2 separate regions of the Homo sapiens genome follow, and region 2 is linked to region 1. The links come from fine-mapping of genetic effects on gene expression. Tissue or cell type: whole blood. Region 1 holds a variant in brackets; the other region holds the start of a gene. Each region is shown on its reference strand, or each on the opposite one. Region 1 has its middle 43 kb from the start of DUSP22. Region 2 holds the start of NLRP3 (NLR family pyrin domain containing 3).

What was found.
Region 2: NLRP3 starts here. The variant in region 1 is fine-mapped to the expression of NLRP3 in whole blood (TOPMed, PIP above 0.99).

Annotation. Positions count from the first base shown.
Region 1 is chr6:248,289-251,101 of GRCh38, reverse strand. No RefSeq gene overlaps it. Among named protein-coding and RNA genes, the nearest start is that of DUSP22, 43 kb to the left of the region's middle. The variant C/T (reference allele first, on the strand shown) is at 1,388.
Region 2 is chr1:247,414,979-247,417,791 of GRCh38, reverse strand. NLRP3 (NLR family pyrin domain containing 3) reads right to left here and starts at 1,619. Exons shown (of 10, transcript NM_001243133.2): 1 at 1,599-1,619.

The sequences.
Region 1 (2,813 bases):
ACATCCTCAACAAAACACAAACTGAATCCAATGAGATTCATCCAAAGAAGATAAGGATGCTTTAACTTTGAAAAATCAGTCAATGTAATGCACTGTATTAATAGCATGACAACAAAACCACATAGTCATCTGAAGAGATGGGAAAAAAAGCATTTTACAAAATTTAACAATCTTTCATAATACAAACACACAAAAACTAAGAATAGAAGGGAACTTCCTCCACCTGATCAAGGGAATCTACAAACAAACCACACCTAACATTACACATGTGGTAAAAGACAGAATGTTTTTGCCCTAAGGAAGTCCACTCTCACCACTTCTATTCAACATTGCAATGGAGGATCAAGCCAGGACAATTAGACAAGAAAGAAAAGTGAAAGACATCAGATGGGAAAGAAAGAAGTAAAACTATCTCTGTTTGTAGATGACATGATCTAATATTAAAAATTCTAAGCATGCCACAAAATAAACTATTAGGCATATAAAATTAGTTCATTAAGGTTGCTGGGTAGCAGATCAATATACAAAAGTCGGTTGGTTCTATACACTAGCAATGAACAATTTGAAAATAAAAGTAAGAAAATAGTTCCATTTATAATAGTATCAAAAAGAATAAAATATTTTAAGGATAGATTTTTCCAAAAAATTCAAGACTTCTACACTGAAAACTATAGTACAAAACATCATTGGAAGAATTACAGAGGATCTAAATTAATGGAAGACATCTCATGAACATAGATTGGAATACTCAATACTTATTGTTAAGACGGCAGTACTCCCCAAATTGATCTACAGATTCAATATAATCCCTATCATTATCCCAGCTGGCTTTTTTTTTTCGGCAGAAACTGACAAGCTTATTATACAATTCATACGGAAAGGCAAGGCACCAAGAATAACCAGAACAATCTTGAAAAATTAAAACAAAGTTGAAAGACTCACACGTCCTGATTTTAAAGCTTACTACAAAGTGACAGTAAGCAAGACAGTGTGGTACTAGCCGGACATGTAGATCAATGGAAGAGAATTTAGAGTCCAGAAATAAATCCTTATGTTTGTGGCCAATCAATTTTGACAAATAGAGCTACCCTAGAATCCAGCAATCCCACTGCTGGGTATATACCCAAAAGAAAGAAAATCACTATACTGAAGAGATGTCTGCATGCCCATGTTTATTGCAGCACTATTCACAATAGCCAAGATCTGGAAGCAACCTAAGTATCCATCAATAGATGAATGGATAAAGGATATGTGGTACATATACACAATAAAGTACTATTCAGCCATAGAAAAGAATTAGATGCTGTAATATGCATGGGACTGGAGGTCATCATGTTAAGTGAGACAAGCCAGGCACTGACTGACAAACTTTGCATGTTCTCACTCA[C/T]TTGTGAAAGCTAAAAATTAAAACAGTTGAATTCATGGAGATACAGAGGGGAAGAATGGTTCCCAGAAGGTAGTAAGGGCTGGGGTGGGGAGGACAGAAGGATGGTTAAAGTGTACACAAATATAGTTAGAATGGGTGGGTGCGGTGGCTCATGCCTGTAATCCCAGCACTTTTGGAGGCCGAGGCAGGTGGATCACTTGAGGTCAGGAGTTCGAAACCAGCCTGACCAATATGCTGAAACCCTGTCTCTTCTAAAAATACAAAAATAAGCCGGGCATGGTGGCGTGCATCTGTAGTCCCAGCTACTTGGGAGGCTGAGGCAAGAGAATCACTTGAACCCAGGAGGCGGAGGTTGCAGTGAGCTAAGATCATGCCACTGCACTCCAGCCTGGGTGACAGAGCGAGACTCCATCTACAAAAAAAAAAAAAAAGAAATATATATATTTCTTTTCTATTTATACATATGTATATATATGAATTAGAATATATGTATATATTCTAATATATATATTAGAATGAATAAGATCTAGTATTTGATATCACAACAGGGTGACTACAGTCAACAATAATTTATTGTACATTTTAAAATACCTAACAGATTATAATTGGATTGTTTGTAACACAAAGCTATGACAAATGCTTTAGGAGATGGATACCCCGTTTACCCTGATGTGATTGTTATACATTATATGCCTGTATCAAAATGTTTCATGTACTGCATAAATACATACACCTACTATGTACCCACAAAATTAAAAATTAAAATATTTTTAAAAATTAGGAAATTATTAGACTCATAGATATAATTTTAAATTAGAAATTAGAAAATCAAGCACGGGTGGTTTTATGAGTAGGTCCAGTATTACCCTCCTCTCTCTAGATCTTTTTAACAAATGGTGCTGGGAAAACTGAATATCAACATGCAAAAGAATAAAGTTGGACTCCTTTCTTACATACACAAAAATTAAATCCATATGAGTCATAAACCTTAATGTGAGAGCTAAAACTATACACTCTTAGAAGAAGTACTAAAGGTAAATTTTAATATCCTTGAGTTAGGTAAAGTCTTCCTAGATAAAACAACAAAGCAAAAGTGGCAAATGAAAAAAAAAGATTGATTGGACTTGATCAAAATTAAAAACTTTTGTTCTGCAAAAGACACCATCAGGTTAAAAAAAAAAACCCCACAAAATGGGAAAAATATTTGCAAATCAAATATATTCAGAATAGAAGGGTAACTTGCTTCTAGAATAAGTACAGAACATCTACAACTCAATAATAAAAAGAAAAATAAGCTATTTTTTAAAAAAATGCACAAAGGATCTGAACAGACATTTCTCTAAGAAAGATATATAAATGGCCAACAAGAATATGAAAAGATGCCCAAAAATTATCCACCATTAGGGAAGTGAAAATCAAAACCACA
Region 2 (2,813 bases), not on the chromosome of region 1:
TAATGGAGAATAATAAAAACATACATCCCTGTAATCCCAGCACTTTGGGAGGCCGAGGTGGGCGGATCACCTGAGGTCAGGAGTTGGAGACCAGGCTCACCAAACAACAGGGAGAAATCCCGTCTCTACTAAAAATACAAAAATTAACCGGGCATGGTACCAGGCACCTGTAATCCCAGCTACTCGGGAGGCTGAGGCAGGAGAATCGCTTGAACCCAGGAGGCGGAGGTTGCGATGAGCCAAGATCACACCACTGCACTCCAGCCTGGGCAATAAGAGCAAAACTCCATCTCAAAAAATAAAATAGAATAAAATAAAATAAATAAAAACATACATCCTTTAATGTCTCCTTGCAAAATTCGCAATTGTTATCATTATAATTCACATTAATTTAGAGCTTTCCACAGGCTAGGCACTCACTGATGTTTTTCCCCATCTAACCTGCACAGAGCTCTATGAGGTGCACCTATTCCTAGCCCCATTTTATAGATGCATAAACTGAGTCTTAGGGGGACTAGGAAGCCTGCCGAGGGGTTTAGAACCAGGAAGGAACAGAGCCAGGATTTTGACCAGAGATATGAGACCATGTCTTCCATCACTTGTTTCAGTCAGACAAAGACAAAGACAACAAAATAGATGACTAAAAGACACACTTCCCCAGCATTTATCACAGGTGTATCACTGCAGCATTCACCAACATAGTCTTCCCAACTAGACTGTGAGTTCCACAAAAACTAGCAATCACCTGCTGTATCTTTAGATCTTCCATATCTCCTAGAGTCCGGATGGATGAACAAGTTGGCTTTGTTTGGAATTGTTCCCTCCTTGATCCCTTGATTATACTCTATTTGGCAAAGCACCTCAACCTAAAGCCATAAATAACACTCAAGGGAGGCAGAGAGCCTGGAAAACGGTGGAGCTCTCCAAATTGGAATTTCTGTGACTGCAGTTCAATGTCAAGATGCCTCAGACTCACTCATCTCTCCCGTCCCATCTCCATTCCTGCCTATCTACTCCTCGCCTCCTGAGCCCTGCAAACCCAGCCCTGTGCATCCTGAGGTGACTGCTCTCCAGACAGCCCTATTAGCTCCGCATACCCTCCCAGCTCCTGCCCATCCTGAGGTGACTGCTCTCCAGACAGCCCTATTAGCTCCGCATACCCTCCCAGCTCCTGCCCCATCAGTCCTTCCATCTGCATCAGGATTCTGCCTTTCTTCTGTGCTCCTTCCACCCTAACACCAGCACAAAAATCTGCTGCCCTTTGGTCTTTAAGGAGGTTTGTTTCCTTCTGTATATCCCATCCATCTTCTCCCCTGGGAGGGATACTGGGCAAATCTGCTGAAGTCGTGGGTGTAAACTATGGTTGCTGCCGCTGTCCTCCCCGCTTCCCCCCGCCACATACACACACACGAACTTGCACACGTAGAGCCCAAATAATGATAAAAGAACATTCCAGAAATGTTGTTGAAGCACAACCTTGGAGACGCCAGAAGAAATTCCTAGTGCATTAACCAGGACAAGTTCTGCCCTCTGAACACAATCTCCCCCACTGCTCTCCCGGTCCTGTCGCCCACACTGCCCCGCGGAGCTGGACTTACCCAGATGCCAGCCTCAGGAACAGCTAGAGAGGAAATGCAATGAATTTATAGCAGTCGCAGCCCCAGAAGGGGCAGGAAGGATGTGGTCTCCACTTACATCAGAGCAGAGGCAGAGAGACTAATGGTTAATCACATAGCTGGATTTTCCAAATGGGATCAACAGTGTTGTCAAAACCGTGTCTCGGTTCCATACTGGGGTTCACCTTGCTCTCCTCTGAGGCACCCCACAGAAGCAGGGTGGGAGGCCAGTATGAGATGGGGCTGGGGGTCAAATCGGCAGTGCTAAATGGATGTTGCCTCTGACACTGCCCGCTGCAACGGCTCCACTGAGAGTGAGGGAAGTGAAACTAAGGACATGCCATGCGAGTGAGTAAAGAATCCAGAGCATGACCTGACCCAGCCTTCAAACTCCAGAGTCCATGCCCTGTCCTCTCACAGCAAGATGGCTGGAAGGCAGTACAGGTTCTCTCCGACATGTTCTACTTTTAAAGCACAAATTTTACTCCCTGACTCATTGACTCACCTGTTCCACTAACACTCACGGAATGGCTGGTATGTGGCAGGCATGCACACAAAGCCTCAGCTTGAGTAGCTTGAGGAGAGACACACACAGACCTACTCTGCAGCTCATGAGACGGCCGCAGGACCACAGACCGGCAAAGGCACAAGTTCAACAGAGCTTGGTGGGTGAGAGGCACTCGCTCAGCCTCTGGGTGAGTGAAAAGGACGAGCACCCAGTTCAGTGGAGGGATGTCAGCAAATGACTGGGTCTGTCTGTGCCTCATACCTGTAAAAGGGTGACAATAATTGCCTGCTACTTCTTTAGATCTTCCAAATCTCCTAGACTCAGGATGGATGAACAAGTGGTTTTGCTTGGAATTGCCCCCTCCTTGATCCCTTCATTATACTGCATTTGACCAAGCACTACATCAACCCAAATAACGGTACCTATCCTAGAAGGCTGTCAGAAAACACTGAGTGAATGGCTAAACGTGAGGCCTTTAAAACAGAGCCTGGCACAGAGAAGCTAGAATAAGCAGTTGGTTCCGATGACTACCACCTTTCTACAGAACTGCAGAGAGAATGCTCTACAACATGAGAGAGGCATCTAGTCCTGCTTAGGGGCATGACAGCAGACCTGAGTCTCCATGAACCAGGTGAAAGGTGTCATTCGGGGCTGGAGCTGAGGCAGGAGCAGCAAAAACTTCAGGTGCT